7 linked regions of the Homo sapiens genome follow. The protein of the gene in region 3 purifies or fractionates together with the protein of the main gene of each other region. This does not show direct contact. Each region holds a gene or a part of one and is shown on either strand. Other genes may lie near its edges. The genes, in order: RAPGEF4, SPECC1L, RIMS1, MAP1B, TMOD2, IGF2BP2 and ELAVL1.

Region 1 (4,156 bases), on a different chromosome or scaffold from region 3:
AGAATGTAATTTTCCCCCAGTTTGGCTGACACCAAAGTCTTATTACTCTTCATTCAGCCAACAACACAGAATAGAATGATTCCAGGTATCTATTGGAAAATATTACTTCAAAGTCATTGCAACTCAATCATAATCATTGTTAACGGCTCAAATGCGAAAAAACAATATTTATAGTGGATTTTCAGTAAGAAACACAATCCATCTATTTCTAAAATATACTACAATCTTTCCTTGGATTAAATCAGATCACCTGAAAACTGTATATTATATTGGCCCCCTCGCAGAATTACCCTTTCTTAATGTTTCTTTAGAATTATGCTGTATTTAAAGAGCCTGTGAAACTCACTGCTGAATCACTGTTGGAATGTTGTTGAGGATATTGTTCACCACATTGCAAAGTATATTCTTGAGGCTGAGGGAGTCAAGAGGTCCCAGTATCAGCTTGATTAATTGTTCTTCTCCAGCAGAAATAGTTTAAGTTTACAAATACTGAATAAAAAAATACCTGTGCTTCCTTGTGTTGAAAATGAGAAATTGAAGCTGAAATGCTTATATTAGTAAAGAAGAAAGGTTAAAATTAACCAACTAAGTTTCCACTTTAAGAAGCCAGAAAAAGAAGAATAAGTTAAACCCAAAGTAAGGAGAAAAAAGGAAAAAAAAATGAGCAAAAATCAATAAATTTCTCAAAGAAAACAGTAAATCAACTAAAAGTTGTTTCTTTTAAAATATTAACAAAATTGGGAAGCTCCTAGTAAGAATGAATTAAAAAAAAAAGACACAAATTACCAATATGGGATACAAAGGACAGAACAACACTACATATCCTAATGGCATTAAAAGGATTATAAGGAATACTATGAACAACTCTATGTCAATAAATTTGATAACTTAGATGAAATGGACAAACTCCTTGAAATAACTATAAAAACTGACATGAAAAGAAAATCTGAACAGTCCTCTATTACAGTTTGAATTTGTCATTAAAAAGCTTTTCATATAGAAAACTCCTGGCCCAGATGACATCTATAAGACATTTGTAAAATAAATAGCATTGATCTTATATAAGTTCATTTAAAAATAGAGGGAAAAAATAGGAAAAAAGGAAATGTTTCTTAATTCACTTGATTAAGCCAGAATAATCCTGATACTAAAATAAGAAAAGAAAGTTATAGGCTAATATCCCTCATGAATTGACATGAAAGTAGCATTAATGAAATATTAGTAAGTTGAATAAAGTAATATATAAAAAGTATAATGCATGTTGACAAAGTAGTATCTATTCTAGGAAGGCAAGGTTGGCTTAACATTTGAAATTCAGACAATGTAAATTCACTATATTTACAGAATAAAACAGAAAAATAATATAATCATCTCAATAATTTCAGAAAAGGGAATTTGCTAAAAAAAAACAACTACATGAAAGACAACTAATGTGGCAAAATAGCAAACTATTTTTTATAAGATCATAACCAAAACAAGAGCATCCATTCTCACCCCTTCTATTCAATTTTGTCCTGGCATTCCTGGCAAATGCAATAAGGCAAGAAAAATAAATAATAGAAGACATAAAAATCAGAAAGAATAAGTAAAACTACCAGTATTCACATTCAAGATTGTCTACAGGGAAAATCCCAATGAATCTATAAAGTAACTACTAGAACCAAATAACTTGCCCAAAATTACACCATCAATAAAATTAAAACTGGGGTTTGAGCCTATACAGTCTGACTCCTAAATTTTTAACCTCTACACTACATTTTCTCTCTAGAGATGACCACGCAACGTTTGCATTAGCTCACACACCTCAACATAGCCATTACTGTAGGCACTGGGAATCTCATTTGAAGATGTGAAAACAAAGATTCAAAAAGATTAATAACTTGGCCAAGATCACATAGCTAGAGGGTAGAGGTGACAGAATTTGAATCCAGGTCTGGCTGATCCTAAGACAAAGCTGATTTGACTATATCATGTTTTCCAGACTGGAAACAGAAAACGGGGAGATCCAGATGCTAAGGCCCTGAAATAAAAGTGGAATAAAAGTCAAGACAATTAGTGACTGGTTAGATGTGGAAAAGGACATAGGAAAGGGAAAATGCAGATAACTTCAAAGTTCTGAGAATGAGGAAGTCATGACATCATAAATAAAATAGTAAAGCAAGAAGGAGAAACAAATGGGGAGCAGGGCTAAAAAAGATGAGGTCAACTTTAGACAAGTATCAATCTGTTAGGTTAGAGATCATTTTGATGGCAAATGATAGAACACCAAACAAAGAATGCTTTAGAGAAATAGGGCTTTTTTCTTCACAAAACAAAAATCTGAAGGTGGGTAACTACTGATCTGGGTTCAGCAGGTGGACAAAGTCAGAACTGGGGGCTCTGTGTTTCTCTGGGCACTTGCTCCTGGGATTACAAGATGGCTGCCACAGGCCCGGGCCTCGGGTAGTAACTCCAGGCAGAAAGAAGAGAGGAAGGGGAAATCAAATACACGGGTAAAGCAAGAGCTTCCCTGGAAGCCTCCTGTAGACTTCTGCTATGTCTCATTGGCCAGACAGTGCCACATGGACACCTCACCTGAAGGAAGATTGGGAAAATAACTATGTTGTTTTTCTAGCCTCTATAGCAGAGGTAGGTGAAGGAAAACAATGTCTGCCCCACAAAATATTAATGGGATATTCATGTGGGAATATCCAACAGACAAAAATACATCTGGTCTAGAAGATAAGCCACAGATACAGAGTTTAAGGAATCTGAGCAGTTACAGCAAAGGAAACAGATAGTTGCGCCAAGAAAGAGCTGGCATGGAGAGAAAAGAGAGTAGTGGCAGCACTTTGTGTTTCTTCTGGGGCAGGGGAAGCAAGAGGGTGCACACGGATGCAGCTGAGTCAACACACCAGGATTGTCCGCCTCCGCTCGTCAGCCAGATTGTTTTCTGTCAGATGTTCAGCTGGATCTCTCGCTGTCTCCCTCCCCACCCAGTTCTTTCCATCCTCTTTCTCTTTCCTCAGTCTCTCAGTACTCCTAGGGCAGTCTCTCCCTCATCTGTGACGTGAAAGTACTGGAGGAAAAACCCACTCTCATTGACCACTGTTGAGGATGCACAAACGTGATTTTATTCTGACTGAAGAAAAACTAGCTGCATGGGGTGTGAGGAGGTGGTGCAGGACAATAAGCAGCTACGATGAGAGGGCCATAAAATCTTCTAAGCTCATGGGAAATTCCAACAAAAGGTATCTGCCAGTCCCACCTCACAGGAGGGGCCAGAAATCCATTTGAGAGAACTCCAACTAAGACAAAGAGGCTGGATTTGCTTTGCTAAGCACCACTTTTCCTCTGAAGACTCTTTCCAGCTCCCAGGCTGCATGCAGGAGACCAGGCAGCAGGGTCAAGGGTGTGGATTGAGCACACCAATCCTACATGTATCCCCAGTCTGAGGGAGTCCAGGTCTGGCTAAACTTTCCTTTCCTAATAGATTAAAGCAAGTAAAATCAGCACAACAGAATTTAACCCTAATTACATATGAGGTTGTATTGTTCTCAAATTACTCCAAATATATATGTCATGTGCTCCCATGTATTTGAGGCCACAGTGAAATGTCTCCCAATAAATTGCAAATAGATAATTCCCAAGCATTAAACTTTAAAAACAATATATTGCTAACATTATGAAAAGAGATCACTTGACATTATATACCTCATTATGGAAATATATAACACTTCTGTGATGCATTCTTACCAAAAAGTCAAACTCTAGACCCAAATACTAATTTACAGGAAATACAGGGGACAAAGGAACATGTTTTAAAAAACTGCATGGAGGTACAATGAAAATTCAGACTGAAAAAAACAACAACAACCCAGTTTCTTCAAGAAATGTATTACAAGGAAGAAAAAGAGAGAAAGAGAGAACCCAGACCTATAGACATATCAACTAAATGCAACTTATTTGGCTCTTGATACAAACAAACTGCAAAAAAGAAAGTTATGAGGTAAATGGGGACATTTGAACACTGACTGAATAATTGATTATATTAGAGAACTAACGTCAAGTTGTTTAATGTGTGTGGTATTGTTTTCTTTATAAAAAGTCACTACCTTTTAGAGACATATACTAAAATATTTACAGATGAAATACATGGGATTTGCTTGAAAATAAT
Region 2 (4,156 bases), on a different chromosome or scaffold from region 3:
TGCTACAGACTGGAATACTGACTCTCCACCTATTACACCAAAACAGATTCGAGATGAGGCGGGGGGAGGTAAAATTTCATGACCCGCTCCATAGGAATACTCAGAACTAGGGACAAATTCTGGTTTTAGCTGTAATACCAGCCATATCCTCTCACAGGCAGGAAAACAGAAACAAAATACAAGTGAGAGAAAGTGACATTATCTTAAGAATACTTTTCACACTATTCCAATAAAAGGAAACCATTCCCAAGTTTTAAAAATATCAGTTTTAAAAAAAAGCTAATAACACACCAAACCAAACCAGTAACCCAGGTTCTCAGTAAACACTGTGCATGGCAGCTGCCTAATGCTGTCCGGAACATTTTAATCTATTTAAACAATACCTTAGCAATGGCATCCTGTAATCGATTGGCATCATTTCGGGTATGAGCCAGATCTTCCTGCAAGCTACTAGCCAAAGTCTCTGCTTTTTCTTTGTCCAGCCTGACACTCTCCAGGAGGTCCTGAATATCAGATTTGTCTCCAGAGTTATGGATAGAATACAGCTCTGCCACTTTCTGCTTTTCATTCTCCAGCTGAGCCTTCAGGCGATTCATCTCTATCTGGTCACTGGCCACTGTGGCTTTGTATTCCTCTAACGTGGCTGCCAAGGCTGCTTTTCCTTTCTGCTCAGACTCAATAATTCGCTCCATATGGTGACTGCGTTCTTTGAGTGCCCCTATCATTTCTTGAGCTTCCTTATTGTCTTGTTCTGCCATTTTCAAAGTATTGCTTAAATGCTGCTGGACACCAAGAAGCTGCTCCCGTTCAAAACGGGCATTCTCAGCGAGGTCCATGTAACGTTGCTCTAATTCCATATAGCGCCCACTTTTTACATCTTCATCTATGACATAAGAAATGTGATGCTCATCTAGAAGAGAGCGGAAGTATTCAATCTGTCGACTAAAGTGTTCCAACTTATCGCTCTGCTGACATAAAGACTCCATCAGAATAACCTTCTCTTCTCCAAGCCTTTCGTTTTCACTATTCAGTTCCTGGGTAATCTGCTGTAAATCAGCTAGCTCTTGCAGGGTTGCCTGGAGTTCCTCACTTGTACTGTGTTGGTTCTCTTCCATCTGGTGTATCCGTTCAGTCAGGCAAGCCACGGACACTTCACTGGCATTCCCGCTGCTCCCCTTCCGGGAGCGCTCTATGCTGGGGATGCCTTCCGACTCTGAGGAGGATGGTGCATCCAGCGCATCATCGCTCGATGTGAGGGGCTGGTAGACCTCACTGCACTCACTGTCTAAATTGTCCATGGAGTTACTGTGCTGATGGTCCATTAGTGTATTTTCATCCTGACTCAAGAGATCCTCCACTGAGCCAGGGGCAGAGCCTTCCACTGAAGAAGTCAGAGTTCCTCCTCCATCGCTCTGGTTACCAGGGGTGATTTCTGGGCTCAGGGACTGATAGCCAAACAGTTTTTCAGAATTGTCTAACCTCTGCTCTAGGGAAAAGCCCAATGCATTCAACCTGTCCTTTAACATTCTGTTTTCATTTTTCAGCTGGTTGAGTTCTTCACGGATGGCAGTATTCTGTTCCTGCAACTGCAATAAAGTGGACTCCACATCAGTCGGCTGGTGAGCCATAATAGTTTCCTTCTCAGATTTTTCATCACCCTCAGAATGATCCTCATTAATGCCCAGCTGGGCACGCATGTCTCGCAGTTCATTTCTCAAATGTAAAATTTCTACGTCTTTGGTTTTTGCCAGCGTGAGAAGATCCTTCACTTTGGCCTCCAAAGCAGCTCTGTCACTGATCTGATTGTCTGACTTAGACTTGCTCATACGAACGTCACATTCTGTAGCAGTTCGACTGCGGGAACGTTTGGCCAATGCCATGTCATTAGCTCCCTGACCTGCAGAAGGTAGTTTTTTGCTCTGGTTTAATCGGGTACGTTCACGTAATCTTTCTCTAGTAGAACTGGATTCTTTATTACCTGTAGAAGTGCTCCGCTTGGTTGAAGAAGCTGTGCCTATGTGTTTAATACAAAAAATGTAAGGCAAAAATGTCAGCAATAAAAGGCTACATAGAATACACAGTTCCTGCCCCAGGTGTAATGAGATGAAATCCAGGATCTACACAATGATTTAGATCTACAATAATCTTGCCTTAGAGTCTGTTAAAGTTCAATTTCTTCAAAACCAGAAGATCATTCATCTTTTAATTATCAAGGAGAAATAAGTTATACACTTTGTTTTACATGTTTTTAAAAGAGTAAATTTTATGGAATGTGAATTACATTTCTACAAAGCTGTTATTTAAATGATATACATTAACTTGAATCCAGAAGTGGGGTTTTAACCAGTTGGCCAGAGGCATAATATTCTAGGGCAAGACAGGTGAAGATGACTCCAGGATTAGCCAGTCGGTGGTAAACTAACTGTACACAGATAGTGAAGGGAGATCATAGGTGGGCAAGAAGGGAAAAGCAGTCTCTGGGAAAACCAAAAATCTAAGCTACCTACTAGAAACACAAAAATTTTACTCTGACCAAAGTAAATGCAAAATAGTTTTAACACCATAAAATGCCACATAAATAATAACAATTATAACAATAGCTAACACATACCTAGCACTTGGTTATACAAATACATTAACACTTCACATACATTAACTTATATAAGCCTCATTAAAGACGTGAGGTAGGTGCTATTATCACCTTGTTTTACAGATGAAGAAACTCAGACACAGATGTTAAATAATTTGCCAACATGTCACAGGTAATAAATAGATGAGCCAAAATTGAAACCCAGGCAGTCTGGTTCCAGATTTTGCACCTTAACCAGTATGTTATACTGTCTCTCTAAATGTAAAAAACAACGAAGCACTAATGTTAAATAATGATGATGCGTCAATCAAATCTACGTGAATCACATGATTACTTAACTACTAAAATTTTAAACCTGTGAAAACTGACACAATCATTTGTTTAATACAAAAAGAACAGGAAGTTTTTTTTGTTCGTTTTTTTGGTTTTTTTTGAGATGGAGTCTCTCTTGACCATCACCCAGGCTATAGTGCAGTGGAGCGATTTCGGCTCACTGCAACCTCTGACTCCCAGGTTCAAGCGATTCTCCTTCCTAGGCCTCCCAAGTAGCTGGGATTACAGGAGCGTGCCACCATGCCTGGCTAATTTTTTTGTATTTTTAGTAGAGATAGGGTTTCACCATGTTGGCCAGGCTGGTCTCAAACTCCTGACCTCAAATGATCTGCCCGCGTCGGTCTCCCAGCGTGCTGGGATTACAGGCGTGAGCCACTGAATTTACAGGCGTGAGCCACCGCACTTACAGGCGTGAGCCACCGCACCTGGCCAGGAATATGTTTAAATACCTGTAAATACTTAAGAAATAACAAATTTTTATGTTAAAAAATAAGATCCACATCTAATCAATAAGTATTTTTAAAGACCCTGCTGGTTCATTAGGTGGTGGGATCCAGGCTGTAGAGGTAACAGGGAGCAAATGATCTCCACAGATAGAGGGAGATAGCCACTAACAGAACAGGTATACAGGAGGATGCGGAATTCAGGCTGGCAAAAAGACAGACAACGAAAGGAAGCAGAAGTGAACATGGCACACAGAAAGGAAAAGTACAGTCACACAGTTAACGGAAGCTGCTGGGGAATGTTCATATAGAGTCCCAAAAGATAGGCAGAATTCAGTGAGTCACACTAAGTCAATAAATGATCCTGAGTAGGAAAGAAATGTAAGGAAAAGTACATTTTATGAAAATTAATCTAGAGGATACTGATATGGTTTGGCTGTGTCCCCACCCAAATCTCATCTTGAACTGTAGTTCCCATAATCCCTATGTGTTTCGGGAGGGACCTGTTGGGAGGTAATTTAATCATGGAAGCAGTTACCCTCACGCTGTTCTCGTGATAGTGAGTTCTCATGACAGCCGATGGTAAGGGGCTTCCCCTTTGCTTGGCTCTCATTCTCCTCCTTCCTGCCACTATGTGGAGAAGAATGTGCCTGCTACCCCTTCCACCATAATTCTAAGTTTCCAGAGGCCTCCCCATCTCTGTGGACCTGTGAGTAAATTAAACCTCTTTTCTTTATGAATTACTCAGTCTGGGGCAGTTCTTTACAGCAGCATGAGAATGGACTAATAC
Region 3 (4,156 bases):
CTTTTGTTTTTCCATGTGGGGCCTGAGAAGTACTACTTCCACATATTCCTCGTAATAGAAGTTAAATTCTTGAAAACGGCTTTGCTCTCCTAGCAAAATCTTGCCTTTTGCTTACAGGGTGAAAGAACTATTACCTCTCTCTAGGAGGTTCACTTCTAGACCTGGATGAAGCCTGCTTCTGTTCAGGCCCCAAGGCTTGCTGCGAGGGCTCAGCCCCTTTGCTCCTGTCTGGTGGTGCGCTGGGAGGAGCAGCATCCTGGGAGGAGGCAGCTGCTGTGCTTAGGGGTGTCTGAGACCGCGATCGCTCTTGGAGTCGTGCTTTCTTTTCTCTTGGTACCTCAGAGCCAGCACCTGTAGCTGTATCACTCAGGGTTCCATCCTGACTTGTCTGCTGAGGGCCACTTCCAAAGAACCATGCCCCAGATTTGGTTAAGATTTCTTGTTGCTTTCGACATAAATTGCATACCCACATAACCTATTTGAAGAAGAAAGAACAATATAAATTTTTATGCCCTCTTGGAAATAATTTTTCAGTATCTTAAAATATATTTAAGAAAAAAAGAACAGTATTCATTTTCATATTTATCCTTGCAAATTTCTTGTGAAAATGGTCCTCCCACAAGTCACAGTCAAATATATGAATGCCTAGACAGGGACTTGTCTGAGACTAGAGAGCCTCTCAGCAGCCAGAGTAGAGGTTTTTTCTCAGCATTTCTGATTTGATTATTCTGAATTTCCTTTTACCATATATCTGTCATATTTTTTATAATTGACTCTGGAGTGTTAGCAAAAATGTTCTAAGCAAGGTAGTTAACTGATTAGAAAAATGTTACCAGGAAAAAAAAAGAAAAATGTTACCAGGAACTACAGAATCAGTACGTAAATACATAAACCTCAGTACTTGCAAGTATTTTTAAAAAGTCTGTCTTTTCAAAAATCACCCACAATTAAAGGCAATATTAAAAATATTCACATAGAAGAAACATACAAAGTAAGCACACAAAAAAGGTCAATGTGTATATTTTCTCTAGTTTCTTAGTGATAAACTAACCTTAAGCTTATTTATGCTATAAAATATAATTTTCCATGCACATATTTACTAAAGCAATAAATGTGACTCTGAGTTTATTCATATGTGACCACTCCAATGTAATGTTCCCCAAGGAGAGCTATTGGGGAACCATCATTTAGCAACATATCCACTGATAAATTATAAGATGTAGCACCACTTAAAATAAACTATATGTCTGTTCTCCATTTGATGACCTTTAAAATGAATGTAATAATGAGGACGATTATCATAATAAAAAATAATAATAGCAGCAATGACTAGCTGTCACAGGGCAAAGATAGGTGCTAACAGCTCCATGAGCTGTCTTTTCAAATATCCTCAGTACCTCTGTTTCTTTGTGCTGTGACTTTACATCGCTGCCTCAGTTACATGCCTCCAAAAGCACTTCAGGTGTTTTGTGTTTGTTTCTACTTCAGAAACTACCTCCACAGGAAAAACTAATTACCAAACTCTAGGCTTCCTTTTCACAAATACTGACTCAATCAACATGTACTCAAAAATATTGCATCAGGATGAATAAATCGTAGAAACATTAACTGATAAGTAATAGAAAATAGTAAAAGAAGCATTGTTTAGTAGGTCAAATGAAGAAAATGAACTACTGAAAATATTCAGATAAATGGGGAAAAACTGTAACTGTAGCCATAGAATAAGATGAAGCTAAAATAAGAATAAGAAAAAGACAGGAAAAAAGTAATACACTTTTTTAAAAGGAAAATACTGCAGGTGAATTAAGAACTGCTTTCCAGGAAAGAAAACTCAAATGAATTATAATATAGGAAAAATTAAGACTGAAGAGAAATACTTGCTATAAAAAATTTAAAATTCATGAAGGTTAATTGATTTATTTAGACTTTCCCAGTCATAAAATGAAGTGTACTAGGTTCAAAAAAGCAGTTAGGTATAATGTCTACACAAAGTATTATAACCAATATTACGGAATTCTCATCTACTAAGATGTCAAACAAGATGAACAATTCATTGCATAAACCTATATCAAAATAAGGATTTTATGGAAAGTAACTTCAATTTAAGTGCTAGCCAAATAAGGGTATATTTTACAAAATCTATTACTGAGTAGGTCCCTCAGAAGTCCTGATTGTTTGAACATGGACATATTAAGGGTAACATTAAAAGGTGCAGTACTCCAGGGCCAGGACCTTCATGAACAGTCAGTGACACTGAGTCTCTTCTGCCCAGAACCCTGAGTGGGGACAGGACGTGTGTGGTGGGAAGGTTTTGGTTGGTTGGTTTGTTTTTTGTCTCTTTAGCTGACAGACCATAATAAGAAAGTTTGAAATCATGTAATTCAACAAGACTGGTATGAAATTTTGACTATTTTACATCAAATAAGAAGACGTTAAATTTGTATTTCTCAGACTAATAGTAAGCAACTTATTATCATCATTTAAAGTAGGTTCTTTTCAGCCAGGTGTGGTGGCTGACACCTGTAATCCCAGCACTTTGGGAGGCTGAGGGGAGCAGATCTTCTGAGGTCAGGAGTTCGAGATCAGTCAGGCCAACATGGTGAAATCCCGTCTCTACTAAAAATACAAAACTTAGCCGGGCATGGTGGTGCATGCCTATAATCCCAGCTACTTGGGAGGCTGAGGCAGAAGAATCACTTGAACCCGGAAGGCAGAGGTTTCAGTGAGCTGAGATCCCGCCACTGTTCTCCAGCCTGGACGATAGAGCGAGACTCCATCTCAAAATAAATAATAAGAAATAAAATAAAATCAAGTAGGTTCTTTTCTACAGAAATATCAAGGTATACTTAGGATAAATATGCAGTTTTTAAAAAACCAGAAAACACAAATTTACAATTACAAAGTTTCTAAAATTGAATAAAGCTAAATAAAGAAGCAGAAAGGAGCACAATAATACTGATGAAGGGTAAAGGATACTCTTCATTTTACATTTGAATATTCTCTAGAAATTATTATCACAATCTTATTTTGATTGCTTCACATTTTTAAACGTTACAAAAAATGGGTCAATGAGAACTAACTGCCAGATTTGGGCATGTTCCAAATTTTGAGTATGTGCAGAACTGCTACCAGATCAATTAAAAGAAACACAATTTATTATTATTAAATAAGTTGAATTTTACAATTTAATTTCATTTCCAGTTTATTCAAAAGGTTACAATTAGTGACTATGTCAAAACAGCATAGGCATTTTAAATTCTATTCTTAAAATACTTTGTATTCATTTAAGTCTGTGATGCTTTGTTAATTTTTTTGTTTTTAACATTTAGTAAAATACTGTATAATTCCAAACTTTTTCTATGTCTTATTTCCTTGTACACCACAACATTTTTAAATTTGTATTTTTAAATTAACTATAAGTGTAGTCAATCCATCCTCCAAACTGAAAGTAAAATTAACCATGGCAATGTTAAAATATTTATTTTTATCAAAATATCACCTCCCAGTCTCTATTTTCAGTTCTACAAATTAATCATACCACAAATTTTACAAATAAAAAATAAATTGCTCATATAAGTTATAAAGAAAAATATATAAGATTACAATAGAATATTGTCATACATTTCAACACAGTTAATACCAAACATTGCAGACCTCTACAGTACATTTTTTGAAGTCAGTATTAAGTATTATATTTGCCTGAAGCTATAGATAATACAAGAGTGCTGTAGGGAGTCATTTTTAACAGATTTTTTTTTAGAAAAGAGGATAAGACGTAACTTTGCCTACAAAAAAATGCTATTTATTTAAAGCACACAAACACACCTTTTAGAAATTGCACTATGCAGGATTATACCCTGATTAAATACCCTGGGATGTGTTCCAAACTAATCTAAACTAAAGTAGGCCTGTGCAATAACTTATCTTAACAATTTACAGATGTTAAGCAATCACACACAAACTCAATTCAAATACTATCGTGAAGTTACATGACTTTTGAAACACCATGCCACATATCAGAAAATATGCAGGACTGAAAATTGTATTCTGACCTTTTGCTGTAACTGCATTTTTAATTGTCTTTTCCTCTTAATTCTTAAGAAGTACAATAAACTATTTTATAAAACCCATAGGAATTTTTTACCCAGAGAAATAA
Region 4 (4,156 bases), on a different chromosome or scaffold from region 3:
GGAACTCCGAAATGACTGTATTGATCCCATTAAGAATCAACCAAGTGAGTGAGCAGAGCCGTTTCTTTACACACCGTAGCAGATGCTGCTTTTCCTCTGAAGATGGCTCTCCTGGGTTCTGGGGTCTTGGCTGCAGCTCAAGATGCAGGCCCTTCCAGCGCTAAGTGAAAATCCTGCTCCCATAGCTTTTCAGACAGTCTGAGATGACTTAGCAACAGAGCAGGCTGGTCCTGTTTTCCTGTGCACGACAAGCTGCTGCTTCAGCCGCCAGGTCTCAGCTGGGCCTCCTCCAGAGGCCACTGCTGTTGTTGCTTGGTGCCTTTGGGCCTTGTTGTGTGAAGCAAGATGGAGCTGCTCCAGGGGGGCCAGCTCTGATGATTGTGTGTTGCAGGCTGGGAAGGCAGTTCCGCATCTGTTACTCTTTCTTCCTATTTCCCCTCCTGCCTTAACTGAGATTCTGGGTTTGGAGACCCTGGCGACTTGGATTCTTGCCATCCGATTACTGAGGGCTCTCTGGGAAGCCTAGAAAATAATCTATAAATCTGTAGAGACATGGTGGTAATGCAGTAAATCAACAGGCCTGGAACGTCCCAATGTGGATGCTTCGTAAATGCCTCTTGAAACCAGGGAAGAGAGATGGTCCCTCTTGCTTTCTCAACTATATTCGGAAAGCATAATGAAAGCTTTGGACATGTCTCCTCCAGAGTTTGGAACAATAGTGTTTCCTCGGACTAGGCTAGCTTCATTTATTTAGTTATGCAGGACTTTATTCCAAATCGTTTTCGCTACCACCAACTACTACTCTTTGGCACCTCCTTTTTCTCCTCCCTAATTAGCCCCCAGCATGGATTTAGCTAGTGGTTCTCATTTTCAGCAAAACCCTGCTTCTTGGTTTTATTTTAATACATAGAGGACATACATCCGTGTCTTGCAAACTGAATTCTAGAGCCTTGTGAACGTTTTCATTGTTTCATTTTTTTTTTAAGGAACTAAAACATATAAAGAATATTAAGTGTCTGTTGGATGTTTTCAATTACCGTTAGATTATAACTTTTCCTTTAGTTAACACTGGGAATCAGCAAGATTTGTTGGTGAAAAGATAGATGAATGTAACATCTACTGCTCTGCATTTTTAGATAAAAGTTTAGCTGATTACATTGTTACATTCTGATGTCACTTAACTGAATGTCCTTCAGTCTAAGATGGTAAGAGAATTTAAAACCCAGGAAAGATTTGGGGTTTAGTTTTCCTTTTCTTTTAACAGGGGAAATAAGAAACCAATACCATATGTGGTGAGAATTAAATGTTAGAGAGTCTTAAATTTACTATATTTGCCTATACTTTTCAAAGTCGAAGACAGATGGATTTCTGCTTGCACTGCTTAATTGGTATTATCTACGACAGCTCTGTGATCCATGCTGAAACACAAGGCAGTCCCCAAATTTAAGGTCATTAAATTGTTCACCTTCTCTAAGGGCTTACTTTAAAAAAATAAGTTATAACTTTTTAGACAAGCAAATAATTATGTCACTTCTCATTTGCTTGTGTTGTAAGATGTTATCTCAGACCTAAATTATTTATTATCAATGCTTTGAAACTATGAGCTCTGTATGTAAGATATTATCGTCATTACATACATATGTTATGAACATCAAGTTGCTGGCTTTAAAAAAAGAAAAAAAGCAAATTAAAGATGAGTTCAAGGGAAAAAATAAGAATTTTTTCCTCTGAGAAATAAAGCATTCCTAAATGTAGCATTTCCTTTAGTTCATTTATTTAGTTTATGATTTCAATCTGATTTCAGACCACTTTTTAGCATAGTTTTACAAATATAATCTTATGATTCTAGGTTAATGATTTAGGTACTTGGAAAAAATATCCAAAAGCCTGTTTTTCAGAGGGAGCAACTAAAGCCCATAAAGGAAAATCAACTTGCCAAAGGCCCAAATAACTGTCAGATAGAACCCATGTGCCATCAACATACAATGCATGGTCATTTCATTTTGCTTTCTTCAATCCACTGTCACCTTTAGAAATATGAATTTTAGCTTTTAAATGGGAGGTGCTTTTTTAAATTGTTGGTTTCATTAAACAACCCTGCAAAATGCTTACATGATTGGAAAACTTGGAACAATCTAGCCTGTACACACCAAGAGTACCTGACTTCTCCTCATTTTTCACCCTGACTTGTTCTTTAATGACCCCTCCCTGCCTCCCTGCCCCATAACCTATTCTTTTCTCCTTTTCTCATCTGTGTATATCATGTGCATGTCAGCCTCCCTTGTGTGCACTGCTACCACCTGGGGTCAGAGAACTGAGAAGGAAAGATCTTTTGTTGCTCCCTGGTCCCAAGGAGCTCACTTTCAGGGCTGGGCAATAGCCACAGAGCAGGCCCAGATTGTTCTCAGAGATGACGGATGCCTTTTGGCTCCAGACATTGAAAGAATGGGGTTCACTGCCTCCAACTGCCTGGAGTTATTCTGCCCCCACCTGGGTAAGCCCAGAAGGGGTACAGTCTTAGAATGCTGGGGAAACAAAGCCTCCAGGAAGAGCTTGACTTGGTGTATATTGGGGTGAAAATTAGAAAGAGGGCTTCCCTGCTCCCCAACAGAGACCAGGATGACTTGCTTCTGAAAGCCTCTTTAGAACCTCTTCACCAACACCCCAGGATGCCCTCCAGCCAGATTCAGAGAGGGGAGAATATGGGAAGGGCCAAAGAGATATTTTTCTGTCCTGTAAACTTTAGAGGGCTCACTGTTGGCTCCTTGTTAGGCACAAAGGGGAACTACATAAACCTACTAAATGCAATATGAACCTTCATTAACAACTACTCTTTGCCTTTACCAATATTATCCAGCAGGAGATACAAAGTAATTACAAATTATTTTATTTCTAAAATTGGTATGGAAAGTGGCCTGATTCCAAAATTTTCCTTTCCAACTAAAATAGCTGGCAAATCCAACATAACCTTTATTTTATAAGTGGTAGTAGTGGTTGTGCATTGCTAAGAAACAATTTGGGTGGAAATTGCTCTCTTGAAAAAAGAACCCTACATTTTTAGTTTCATTGGGAGTGTAAAAATGAGAAATATTTTTATCAGCCGTTTACTAGTATAATTTAGAAATTACTAAGTGGATTTATCATTTAGTACTTTTTCTATTGCTAAATTACAAATATGTCAAAAATAAAATATGTATGAAAATATAAAGCAAACATTTAATTGTGTGTGCCATGACAAGTTAACTGAAGCCAAGGGAAAATGGCAAGTAACAATGTAAGAGCAAGTCTGCAGATAACCCTGGATGAAGTCATTCAAATAATGTACCAATTTAGACATTACTTAGAACAAAGACAGAAAAATTGTATGAATTTAATTTAAATGCATATGTCTCATTATTAACTTATTGACCCAGCTTGACAGGGTAGAAGACAAAGTAGAGCTCAGACCTGGAACAAGGAGAATTCAGTCAACAATACCAATTAAGCAGCTCAGACAGGAACTCGATTTTTTTGCACTAGACTAGTATATAGTGTATACATTGAAGTAAAATATTCTAATGAATTCAGACCTCTCAACCTGTCAAGCTCTCTGTGAAACAAAAAGAACCCATTTATCATTTCTGCACTAAAAAGATCTGCGAAATCTCAACATGCCTTTCTTGTTAAAATTCAAATACTCCATTAGCACAAATGCAAACTGAGGCTATTAATGTTTCCAGGAAGAGCCATAAAATTCTCCCTTATAATTTGACCTTTCCTTAAGCACGTTAACTCTTCCACATCTGAATTCTTCCCATTGATCATATGAGAAATTTCTGCCTGTATTTAGTGGACACACATCTATTTGAAAATATTCCTCCTGGTTGAAAAGGTCTGTGGTGTGTAATCTAAAGATATTTTAGATGTGCAGTGAACTGAGTTTCCAGAATCTTTTTTTTTTGTAATGTCTATGTATAATCCACCTTGATTCTTTACAGGATAGGAAGACTGAATACAATATAACCAAGGGTAAATACAAATATGCCTTAAGGATCCAGTGTGTATTTAAGTAACACACTGCTATTTATTCCTTCAAGTCTGTATACATGACTAATGTCCAACAAAAATGATTACATGACTGGGTGTTAATTTAGAGATAGTTCACCTGCTGTGTTAT
Region 5 (3,789 bases), on a different chromosome or scaffold from region 3:
TGGTTGTTCAATACAGCCATTATTTAAAATTAAATGATGTGCACTTACAACTGAATGAATTATATTAAGGACAGAAGTAACAAATACTGTACTCAAAAATCTTACATTTTACTATTTTCTAACCTCTTAGATTATTTACATCTAGTAGGTATGTATGTAGAAATATTACCAAACAGTATGCTACTGAACGTATCCTCTCAACTCCATGTTCACTACCTTCTTGTTACTACAGTGGCTTGAAATTGGCCATGGTAGAAATATTTACACCACAGAAATTAGCAATATGTAAGAAATTGGGGTTTTCTCCCTCTCCAGATTGCTGGTTGATAAACATTCATCAGCACACCACTGGGTGAAATTATACATTTTTTTATACATATGTTTCGCTTATCATGTTGCCGAAGGGAAGAACATTTCTCTTAGATGTCTTTTCTCCTCTTTGGATTTGTTACAAACCTGTTTAAGTGCTGAGTCCCTGACCTGCCTCTCCAAGTAAGCCTTTTTCCTTTTTTTTTTTTTTTTTCTTACTCTCATTCTTGCCTTGACTCTTAAAATCCTGGACCCTATAGAGCATTCCTTGCAGCCCCACAGTGCTGTGGGCTGGGGGCTAAAGCAGTTCTTGGCAAACTCTGGCAGAAAGCAAGAAAAAAAGAATCAGAATTCAATCATGGCTGTTTCTTTTGTACAAGCAGTTGTTGATAGTATTAAAGCAAGATAATGGGACATTATCAAAAATATAGCACTGTTTTTACCTTATGAAATAGTTGGGTTGCATGCAACAGAGTCTATGAAATCAAATGTTTTTTACTAATCAGTTTGTTTTCTTATTACCTGTGTTTTTAAAGTGGCTTGAAAGGTGGCATTTCCATGAGTGTGCACATATTGATGATAACCCTTAGAAAAACATACACTTGAGGAGCCTATCCATCATTTAATTAGCCTAGGACTTCATCTCCCTCTCTGCCCAAAGTGTGGAAGTGGTAGCTCTTTCATGATCATGGGCACAGTTAATCCTTTGCTATCCATTGTGATGGGGCATAATGTATATAAAATATTTTTCTATGTATTTGTTCTGCCAGATACTGTGTTGAGATATTTGGCAATATCTGGATAACTGACTGAAGGGAGATAACTTCTCCCCAGGCCTATCTCCCTCCCCCTTTTAGAGTTGTGCAGGTCCACTTTAAGTGTAAAATCACTCACCTGGACTTGTGGGCTTGTATCACCAACATCTATTATGGCACATGTAGATGACATTTAGGAGAAAAACCTTAGAAGTCTAGAAATCATATGATTAGTTCAGCACTGCAGCTCCCCATCTGCTTATAGTGTATAACTGGAAGCTCTTTCATCCTCATCAGCATGATTAAATGACTTCGTTTCTTTCATCTTTGGAGGGTATAATGTAAATAAGTGTCGTGTGTGTATGTGTGTGTGTACTGTCAGATATCTAACTAGGTATTTGGCTACATCTGGACAACTGATTGAAGGGAGATGCTCTCTCCCCAGTCCTCTTCCCTTGTCCTTTTTAGAATTGCTGCAGGCCCAGGTTAAATATGAAATTACTCCCTAGGCTTTGCAGTTTATGTTACCAACCACCACATTTTATAGCTATGTAGAGGATGACTCTTAGGAAATAAATATTAGAAGCCTAGAAATCATTTAGTTGTTCTAGCACCAAATCTATCCATTTGCCTAATGTATTTAACATTCCATCCTCATCAACATGATGAAGCCCCTTTCTTCCATCTTTGTAGGGCACATTGTATATAAATATTTTGTACATAAAGATCATCAAATACCATAATGGGGTATTTGGCTTCATCTGGAAAATTGACTGGAGGGAGATGCTGTCTCCCAGCCCTGCTTCCCTCGTCCCTGTCCAAGTTGCTGCAGGCCCAGGTTAGAAGATTACCAACCTGGAGGGGCATGCAGTTCATCTTACAATAAAAGCCCATTCATTTAAAAACTCAGAAATCATCCCAGTGCCTGTACTCCTCAAACCAATTTCCCTAAGGGAAGACTGGCACACCAGCCCAAAGAGCAGGTGCTTCTCTTCCAACAGAAACATGGCCCCTGACAGGGCACCAGCATTAGGGAAACCAATGTCCTCCGAATAGCTGCCATGAGAACATTTCAGATGCTCAAACTGAAAATTCTTAAAACCAATATTAAGCATCAGCATGCTTTAAGTGTAAGATAGCCCTTTGGAATTTACAAACACATGTGCAGCTATTTCCTTCTTCACAGATATGATGTACTCAGCCCCCTCCTAGGCACTACGAAGAAGACAGAGGAAGCATAAAAATTCTGGACTAATATAATTTTATATGTGTTTCTGAGATTGGGGAGTAGACTGAGTGCCTTTTTTACAAAGAAGATCCCATATTTAATTCAAGTATTTATAGCATCAGCAAAAATGGGCAGAGGGCGGGAAGTTGAGAACACTAGGTTCTGTGCTATGTTACCTGTATTCAGTAGAAGTGTTTCTGGAGTCAGGTTTTAAGTCATGATCCTGAAGCTTCCTTCCCCTCTTCCACTAATGATGCAATAATAGCTGTTTTCATTTTAACGAGCAGAGAACTAAGAGGAAAGGTCCTAGCTCTGCCTTCCACTTGCAGCTTCCCTTTACCTCCTCTTATTGCTTTCATCTCAAATATCCCTGCTACTCAACCAATCCTAAAGCTAAAGTACTGAGATGCACACAAAGGAAAGGTGTGAGAGTGCTTGGAAGCATCCAGCTGAGCCCACTGGATGAAAATCAGACGATAGGGCCTCCTGTTGTAATATACTAGCCAGAGAAAAGCGCCAAGAACTTCAGGGATATTATTCACTGCTTTATTGCTCCCTAACCCTAGATCAGATTGGATTTTACTTTGTAGTTCAGGAGTTAAGAAGTCAAATTGCTGACCGAGGTGGGGAAGGATGATGGAAATTAAAGGTTTACATTTGTTTAATGGCAGAACTGAGATTTGCTCAGCTTATCTCTTTCCCATCTGTCTGTAATAGCAATGACTGAATAATCAGTAGACCAATGGAAGAGGAGTTGCAAGTTTAAATTTGTAACCTGACTCTGGGTTCTGTTCTAGGAATAGTGCATGTTTTAGAGGCTTTGCCAGTTGGGATACATTGTTGACTTGGGGGAGGATGAAGGAGAGAACTGATGACCTAGACATAGAAAAGAGTAGTTAACTAACTAGATGTTCTTCTGATCTCTTCCATGGTAGACATTCTGAGCACATTGGCCCAGTTAGTTGGTATGGTGAAGGGGCACCGTACTAACAGATTTGGAGACTGAAACCTAATCCCATCACCAACACTTAGCAGGTATATGATCATGGGCAATTCATTCAATTGCCTGCCAATTATAGACTATATAGGGGGAAGAGCACTGGATTTGGAGTCAAGAAACCTGGACACTTGGCTCCACACTTCCTTAGCTGGGTAACTTTGGGCAAACCGCTTGGTCTCTCAAGCCTAAGGTTCTTCAGCTATAAAATGGGAATAATACTTCACTAACTACCTCACAGAGTTGTGGTAAGAATATAATCAGATAACTGGATAAAAACACTATATAAACTGGAAAGCGCCGTACAAATGTGAGAGATCAGTTTTATTATCAAATCACTGTTTTCCACTGCCTCTTGAATCGGCTTTATTCTAACCAACCATTACATCTTTCTCATCTTTTGGAGTATGGGTAATTGAGGCTTGGGTGTGTCATCAGGGACTGGAGTTATTTCAGCTCCCATGTAGAGGTGGGAGAGGTGGTTGATGGGGCAGTGGAAG
Region 6 (4,156 bases), on a different chromosome or scaffold from region 3:
TGGTATAGGCTTGTGCTGCCTCTTCACAGTGCATGGAGGAAGCTCTAGGTAAAAGTGGTCCCAAGTGTTTGGCAAAGCAGAGTCTAGGAGACACAGTGTCACAGGTATGGTGCCCTCTATTCCCGATCATGTCAAGACACAGCTCCCATCTTGGTTTTGATGCCAAGGCTCAACATTTTTCAAGTCTCTACACAATCCACAAATATCCCGGTGTGAATGTCCTGGAGCTCCACTGACATGTCAAAGATGGCAGGAACACCCTGGAGCTCTACCAATATGTCAAAGGTGGCTCAGATGCCGTGGAGCTCCATGGGTATGTCAAAGGTGGCACATATCCAGCTCAAAGATCTGCATCTTTTTAGAAAACATTTAAAAACACAGAACTCAATGGAATTCAAATATAAAAACAAATAAATTTAAACAGAAATAAGCCCAAATCTGCTTACATTTTTGCTTCTTCTCTTGTTGCATATGTGACGTTGACAACGGCGGTTTCTGTGTCTGTGTTGACTAGGGAAAAGGCAAAAACTACACTGTCATAGGAAAAAGTGCTGTCACCCTCTGGCTTAATGTAAACAGACAAACTTTAGAGAAAAATGCATAAAACCCTCATCACACTGGCTCCACAGTTATCTGCATCTCTACGTTTATTCATCTGAGTTCACAGTAATTTGTAATCAATTGTATATAACACGTTTGTAATCAATCGTATGAACAACTCAGAACTATATTTTCCACATATTTTATAAACACTTTTATATGAGTATTTTGTATCAGTACATTTTCTTTGTATTTTTCATTTTTAATGTCTATATAAAATTGCAGTGAGTCAAATGTACCATGACTTGCCTAACCATTCCCCAATTGTTGGTAAGTAGGCTGTTCCCACTATTTGCTAGTCTAAATAGTGTTGCTAAAAATCACCTTTGTTGCAAACATCACTGGATTGTGTGTTCTTCTGAATTACTTCTTTAGGCTAAAATCACAGAAGAAAAGTAATGCAGTAAAAGAACATGATGCTTTTTAATGCATATTTTCAGACTGGTCTCCTAGAAGTTTGTATCAATTTATTACATCACTATCAAGGTATGAGTTTTAATTATAATTTGCATTAATTCTTAAATAATTGGATATACATATAAAACAATAAGAAAATATTTTAATTTAAATTATTCATTCACTGACAAGGTTGAACCATCACTATTTTTGTTTCCCTTTGACTGAACTCTTTGACTGTGTGGGTTAAATCTAATAAATAAAACTGACAATTCTAATTACTTGGCTAAAAGAGAAAGTATAAACTCTATGATTGGCTAATAAGGGATTACTCTTGTGAGTTGTCTTGTCTTAGATCATAATTTCTTGCCTCTTCTTCTATAGTTAGAAATTAAAAATAAATTCAAATGCCAGAGAAAACTTTCTCAATCCAAGCCAGTAAACTTAAACACCAAAAATATATGTTTCCCAAAACAAAGGTGACTAGATCAATTCTTCCCTTTAAAAGATTTAAGCTGTTGGGAGTTTGGAGTTAACAACAACATTAAGTTAAAGATAATTCAAGAAAATTATGATAAACCTGCTGTCCAAAGTAATAATAAAACTCTATAATATACGATTCTTTACACTGGACCCATGCTTGAGCTTCAAGAATTCTATAAACCCCTCCAAAATGATTCAAACTTGTAGAAATGTGAATTTTTCTTGTTATTTTACAAGATTTGCAAAGGGACCTGAGACCCCGAAAAGCTTAAGGACTACTGTTAAAAATACTGTTTGTTAAATAACTTTAAAGCAGCTGCAGCCTTTATGGGTTGCAGGGAGTTGTATGTAATGCTCAGAAAGAGCTGCCACTGAGAATTACATGTAATAAACCCGAGCCCAGCTCTGGCCTTGGCCTGGAGTGTTCATAGCACGCTTTAATTCACACTTAACCCACAGAAGTCCTCACAGTGCAAAACAGGGGAGGTGTAGCACATTACTGTCCTCTCTCAGTGCTGACACAGAGAATGCTAAAAAGGTTTCATATTTGCTGCTTTCTAGTGCTACAGATAAGGCTGTAGACTCCCAGAAAGGGCTGGGTTTGAACCTCCTGAATAAAGCTATCCATTAGGATTCTCAGATTCTGTGCTCACTTCTTAGTCATATGCTCTGTTCTTCAAAGATGTTAGTCTTCAGGAAATCAGGCAGTTCTTTGATTCTGTGACGAGCTAAGCTCCATTCAAATAATTTATTTCACTGGGCATGAAAGTTCTATAAAGTTGCCTAAAACTCTACTGAAAATATTTTCCTGCTGAATCAGGAATCACTCATGTAACAGGACAAAACAATAGCCCAACAGTTCTATCCTGTTGTTGTTAGGCAGCTGGAAACTGGGGGGTCTCCAGCACACAGCTGCCCTAGGACCTATAAACTGCCCCAGGGACCTGGAATATATTTTTCTTGCGTAGCATTGTCCTCAGTTTATAATATAATCTTAACTAGTAACTTTTACAGGTTCATGTCTGCAAGACCATCTTGCCTACAACACCCAATCATTAGAATGTCTTCTTTTCTGCCGGGCACGGTGGCTCACACCTGTGATCCCAGCACTCTGGGAGGCCAAGGTGGGTGGATCACTTGAGGCCGGGAGTTTGATGCCAGCCTGGCCAACACGGTGAAACCCTGTCTCTACTAAAACTACAAAAATTAGCCAGGCATGGTGGCGCTCACCTATAATCCCAGCTACTAGGGAGGCTGAGGCACAAGAATTGCTTGAACCCGGGAGGTGGAGGTTGCAGGGAGTAGAGATCATGCTCCTGCACTCCAGCCTGGGCGACAGAGTGAGACTCCGCCTCAAAAAAAAAAGCAGGGGGAGTCTTCTTTCCATGTCGAAGGAAATAAGAACTAAGAAATAGAATCCTTATAAATCATGTCTTCTTTCTGAGCTCTTTCCCTTCACCTTTGGGCATGGGCAGGCAGCAGCATAAACTGAATAATATCTGAATAATTACTGCTTTAAAACTATTAATTAAACTAGCAGAATAGATCATATACAAGAAAATGGGTTGTTTGCAATTTTTCCTAAGTGAACTTGAACAATCCCTTCAGCTTACGTATGACTCTGCTGTCTACAAATGCCTTATACAGGTTCTCTTTGGGTAACACAACTATCCAGTGACAGAGGAAGGGTAGAAATTTCTCTCTCAATTTGACACTTGTGCATACTGAGTCAGTGAGGTTATTTGACTTTTTCAAGGGTTCGCAGTCAGTAAATGACTGAATTTACATTCTGTTTTCTAGGTCAAGGCAAAAATAATCTTTATCATGTATTATTGCCTGTCACATCAGGAGTTTGGAATCTACTTTTCTGGGACTCTTAAAGAGCTAGATAAGATATCAGCTTTAGGTACCACTGTTTTCCTTTTAAAAATCATAGTATTTCATGCTTTAGAAGATAAAAAAGAGGTTGGCAGGAAGAAAAGTATCTTCTGGGCATTTGCAGCACTGCTCCTGAGACAGGTGTTCTCAAACTTGAGTGTACACAAAAATCACTTCAGGGTTTTTGTTTGTTTGTTTTGAGACAAAGTCTCACTCTGTCACCCAGGCTGGAGTTCAGTGGTGTAATCTCGGTTCACTGCAACCACCTCCCAGGCTCAAGCGATTCTCGTGCCTCAGCCTTCCAAGTAGCTGGGATTACAGGCATGCGTCACCATACCTGGCTAATTTTGTATTTTTAGTAGAGATGGGGTTTTGCCATGTTGGCCAGGCTGGTCTTGAACTCCTGGCCTCATGTGATCTGCCCACCTGGGCGTCACAAAGTGCTGGGATTACAGGTATGAGCCACCACACCTGGCCTCGGGTGCTTTTTTAAATATAGATTCACGAGCTCTTCCCTGCAAGACTCTTACTCAGCAGGTCTACAGTAAGCCCTAGGAGTCTGCAATTCACAAGCACTTCAAGGGATTATTGGTATAGGAGTCCTATTCATTGGGTAACACTCAGTCCAAGACATTAGGGATCTGTTTTTCTTATCCAGGGAAAGGAAAGTAGCAACCGTGTAAATCCAATTACTCCTAAGTGAATTAAGCTTACCCTAGCCTGACAGCGTTTGTCAGTGCTTGAGCACACTGCACAGTATATGAGAAACAGCTTGTAAATAATATTCCTCGAAAAGGCA
Region 7 (4,156 bases), on a different chromosome or scaffold from region 3:
GTTTTATTGGAATACAGCTTGTCTCATTTGTTTATGTATTGTCTGTCTATAGATAGTTTTGTACTACAATAACACAGTTAAGTAGTAGCAACCGTATGGCCAAAAAAGCTGAGAATATTTACCATCTGGCTCTTCACACAAAAAAAATCTGCCGACCTCTGTTTTAAAATGTAAAAACATAAAATTTCTTGGAGAAAAATCTTTGTGGCATTGGGCTGGGGAAAGATTTCTCAGACACAACACCAAAAGCCCACTTCGTTAAAAAAAAAAAAAAATGGATAAACTGGATATCATCAAAATTTGAAACTTTTGCTCTGTGAAAGATACTGCTAGGAGAATTAAAATCCACCAACTGGAGTAAACATTTGCAAAAGGGACTTGTAGTCAGAACACTTTTTTTTTTTTTTGAGTCAAAGTCTCACTCCACTGCCCAGGCTGAAGTGCAATGCCATAATCATAGCTCACTGCAGCCACAAACTCTTGGGTTCAAGCAATCCTCCTGCCTCAGCCTTCTGGCTAATTTTTTATTTTTTGTCGAGATAGGGTCTCACTATGTTGCCCACGCTGGTCTTGAATTCCTGGTGTCAAGTGATCCTCCCATCTTGGCCTCTCAAAGTATTAGAATTATAGGCGTAAGCCACCTCACCCAACCCAGAACCCTTTTTTTTTTTTTTTTGAAATGGAGTCTTGCTCTGTCACCCAGGCTGGAGTGCAGTGGCATGATCTCCGCTCACTGCAAGCTCCACCTCCCGGGTTCATGCCATTCTCCTGCCTCAGCCTCCCAAGTAGCTGGGACTACAGGCGCCCGCCACCATGCCCAGCTAATTTTTTGTATTTTTAGTAGAGACGGGGTTTCACCGTGTTAGCCAGGATGGTCTCCATCTCCTGACCTCGTGATCTGCCCATCTGCCCACCTCGGCCTCCCAAAGTGCTGGGATTACAGGCGTGAGCCACCACGCCTGGCCCAGAACACTTTTTTTTAAGCTCTCAAAACAGAAGCAGGCTAGTGTGCTGGCTCATGCCTGGAATTCCAGCACTTTGGGAGGCCGAGGTGGGTGGATCACCTGAGGTCAGGAGTTTGAGACCAGTCCGGCCAACATGGTGAAACCCCATCTCTACAAAAATACAACAAAAAAAAAATTAGCAAGGCGTGGTGGTGGGCATCTGTAATCTCAGTTACTGGGGAGGCTGAGGCAGGAGAATCGCTTGAACCTGGGAGGCAGAGGTTGCAATGAGCCGAGATGGCGCCACTGTACTCCAAACTGGGCGATAGGGCCAGACTCCATCTCCAAAAACCAAAAACAACATAATGAGCAAACAACCTGGTTTCAAAAATGGCAAAAGATTTGAACAGATACTATACCAAAGAATATATATGGATGGCAGACAGGCACATGAAAAGATGCTCAACATCATTAGTCAAATTAAAACCACATCGAGACACCGCTACCCACTTATTAGAATGGCTAAAGCAAAATAAAACAAAAAACAACCAACAGCAACAAAACAGACAATGTCAAGTGCTGGCAGGGATGTGGAGAAGCCAGAATATTCATGCACTGCTGGTGGGAATGCAAAAATGTGAAATGTGACAGCCACTTTGGAAAACAGATTGGCAGTTTCTTATGGTGAAATATACACTTAGCATGGGATCCAGCAATCCTACTCCTAGTATTAAGGCAATAGAAAGGAAAATCTATATTCACACAAAAATCTGTATATAAATGTGCAGAGCGGCATTATTCATAATCATCCAAAACTACAACAACCCAAATATTCTTCAAGCCATTCATGGATAAACTGGGATACACCATACAACAGAATACCACCTGGCAATAAAAGGTATCACCAATTCATGCTACTTGTGTGAATCTCAAACACATCTTGCCACATCATTTCTGTGCCTTCCTGGAAAAGGCAAAACCATAGGGATGGATCTGTGGTCGCTGGGGTTAGGGAGTGAGGGGAAAAGTCGATTACACAGGGACAGGAGGAGGGAGTATTTCTGTTTGTGGGAGAGCGAACTTTCCAATCTTTATTATGGTGGTAATCAAACAACTTTATCCGTTTGTCAAAACTCAGAGAACTCTACTCGAAAAAATGAATTTTCCTACATGCAAATTTAAAAATAAATTGTCTGAGTGTGGCGACTCATGCCTTTAATCCCAGCGCTTTCAGAGGCCAAGGTGGGAGGACTGCTTAAGCCTGGAGTTCAAGACCAGCCTGGGCAGCACAGAGAGATGCCATCATTACAAAAAAAAAAAAAATTAAAAATTACCCAGGAATGGTGATGCACACCTGTATGCAATCCCAGCTAATCGGGGGGCTCAGCTGGGAGGATCACTAGAGCCTGGGAGGTCAATACTGCAGTTAGCTATGATTGTGCCACTGCAGTCCAGCGTGGGCGACAGAGTGAGATCCTGCCTCAAAAACAACAACAAAACCACAATAAAAATAAATTTTAAAAGGTTTAAAAAGAGAACTTCTGCTTTGCGGCCCTGTTCCTCCTGACACTCTGAGTCAAGGCTGAGCAGCCCCTGCAGGTCAAGTTCTTGGTCAACTAGTAACACGGGAGAAACCAACAACCTGCCCTGCAAAGCAGTTTCATGACGTTTCTGGGCCCCCACCCCACTCTCTGGAGGCCCTTCCCTTGACCTTCTCCAAATCTGCATCATCAATCCTGGGCCAAATCAGCTTCTATCCCACAAGCTCCAACCACAACTGGGCCTTGTCACCACTCAATTATCACTGACTCCCAAGTCGTAGCCACTTCTGTCTCTCGAGGTGCAAGGCCTGCACTGTCCTGCAATCAAGATGCTCACCCCTCTGGTATTCCCTGTCAGTGGTCACCACCCATTGAGGCTCGGCGGTCACACGATGATGCTCACGGTCAGGCATGCCATTAATAAGTGGCAGGGCCAGGCCTCAAGTTGTCATGACAATGCAACTGTCAAACTGGCAAGGCCCTTCACAATCGGACCCAGGTGGTTCTCCAGCCTCAGTCGCCACCCTCCCTTCCCGCTCACTCCAGCTTCTTGCCAATATGCTACAGGCCTCTGCTTTGGCTGTTCCCTCTGCAGGGCACTAGTGTCCTCTCCTTCACTTCCCAGCTCATTTTTTAAAATTAGTATTTTTTTTTAAAGAGATGGGGGTCTCTCTTTGTTGCCCAGGCTGGTCTTGAACTCCCAAGCTCAAGTGATCCTCCTACTTTGGCCTCCCAAAGTGCTGGAATTGCAGGTGTGAGCCACCATGCCTGGCCTCCCAGCTCACTTCTATTTTTACTTATTTTTCTTTTGAGAAAGGGTCTTGCTCTGCTGCCAAACTAGAGTGCAGTGGCATAATCACGGCTCACTGCAGCCTCAAACTGCCTCAGTTTCCCAAGTAGCTGGGACTACTGGTGTGTGCCACCATACCTGGCTGATTTTTAAATTTTTTTAGAGACAGGGGTCTCATTTTGTTGCCCATGCTGGCTTCAAGTCATCCTCCCACCTGGGCCTCCCAAAGTGCTGGGATTATAGGTGAGAGCCACTACACCAGGCTGGCTCATCTTTAAAAAGCTACCTTCCTGGCCTGGCGTGGTGGCTTATGCCTGTAATCCCAGCAATGTGGGAGGCCGAGGTAGGCGGATCACCTGAGGTCAGGAGTTTGAGACCAGCATGGCCAACATAGTGAAACCCTGTCTATACTGAAAATACAAAAATTAGCTGGGCGTGATGGTGCATGCCTGTAGTACCAGCTACTCAGGAGGCTGAGACAGCAGACTCACTTGAACGCGGGAGGCAGAGGTTGCAGTGAGTCAAAATCACGCCACTGCACTCCAGCCTGGGCAACAGAGTGAGACTGTCTCAAAAAAATAAAAAATAAAAGGCCACCTTCCCCCAGGACAACAGGTTACTTACTCTAGTTCTCAGTGCCTCCATGCCATTGCTGTAAACCTTTGTTACTGTCCCAACCACTCCTATCATTATTTGCCTTACACTCAATGACCAATGTCAGTGGTGAGAACCTTGAGGGCCCAGGTTATACCATTGCCATCTAAGAGTCCCCAGGCAAAGCCAGGGTGTGTCACACAGCAGTACAGGAGGCTGCTGGCTCTCAGACCAGGCTGGAGTGCAGAGGCATGATCACGGCTCACTGCAGCCCCGGCCTCCTAGGC

What was found.
Region 1: the proteins of RIMS1 (region 3) and RAPGEF4 purify together in Homo sapiens (co-immunoprecipitation; one large-scale study listed by IntAct). This does not show direct contact.
Region 2: the proteins of RIMS1 (region 3) and SPECC1L purify together in Homo sapiens (co-immunoprecipitation; one large-scale study listed by IntAct). This does not show direct contact.
Region 4: the proteins of RIMS1 (region 3) and MAP1B purify together in Homo sapiens (co-immunoprecipitation; one large-scale study listed by IntAct). This does not show direct contact.
Region 5: the proteins of RIMS1 (region 3) and TMOD2 purify together in Homo sapiens (co-immunoprecipitation; one large-scale study listed by IntAct). This does not show direct contact.
Region 6: the proteins of RIMS1 (region 3) and IGF2BP2 purify together in Homo sapiens (co-immunoprecipitation; one large-scale study listed by IntAct). This does not show direct contact.
Region 7: the proteins of RIMS1 (region 3) and ELAVL1 purify together in Homo sapiens (co-immunoprecipitation; one large-scale study listed by IntAct). This does not show direct contact.

What each region holds. Positions count from the first base shown.
Region 1 is NC_000002.12:172,742,071-172,746,226, reverse strand, and holds part of RAPGEF4 (rap guanine nucleotide exchange factor 4), read right to left. Parts: intron 1-4,156.
Region 2 is NC_000022.11:24,319,146-24,323,301, reverse strand, and holds part of SPECC1L (cytospin-A), read right to left. Parts: intron 2,015-4,156; coding exon 384-2,014; intron 1-383. UniProt on the Homo sapiens protein: Involved in cytokinesis and spindle organization. May play a role in actin cytoskeleton organization and microtubule stabilization and hence required for proper cell adhesion and migration.
Region 3 is NC_000006.12:72,175,894-72,180,049, reverse strand, and holds part of RIMS1 (regulating synaptic membrane exocytosis protein 1), read right to left. Parts: intron 476-4,156; coding exon 135-475; intron 1-134. UniProt on the Homo sapiens protein: Rab effector involved in exocytosis. May act as scaffold protein that regulates neurotransmitter release at the active zone.
Region 4 is NC_000005.10:72,110,287-72,114,442, forward strand, and holds part of MAP1B (microtubule-associated protein 1B), read left to right. Parts: exon of another isoform or gene 1-3,201; intron 3,202-4,156. UniProt on the Homo sapiens protein: Facilitates tyrosination of alpha-tubulin in neuronal microtubules. Phosphorylated MAP1B is required for proper microtubule dynamics and plays a role in the cytoskeletal changes that accompany neuronal differentiation and neurite extension.
Region 5 is NC_000015.10:51,810,245-51,814,033, forward strand, and holds part of TMOD2 (tropomodulin-2), read left to right. Parts: 3' UTR 1-3,789. UniProt on the Homo sapiens protein: Blocks the elongation and depolymerization of the actin filaments at the pointed end. The Tmod/TM complex contributes to the formation of the short actin protofilament, which in turn defines the geometry of the membrane skeleton.
Region 6 is NC_000003.12:185,692,253-185,696,408, forward strand, and holds part of IGF2BP2 (insulin-like growth factor 2 mRNA-binding protein 2), read right to left. Parts: intron 977-4,156; coding exon of another isoform or gene 925-976; intron 529-924; coding exon of another isoform or gene 511-528; coding exon 447-510; intron 1-446.
Region 7 is NC_000019.10:7,995,524-7,999,679, forward strand, and holds part of ELAVL1 (ELAV-like protein 1), read right to left. Parts: intron 1-4,156. UniProt on the Homo sapiens protein: RNA-binding protein that binds to the 3'-UTR region of mRNAs and increases their stability.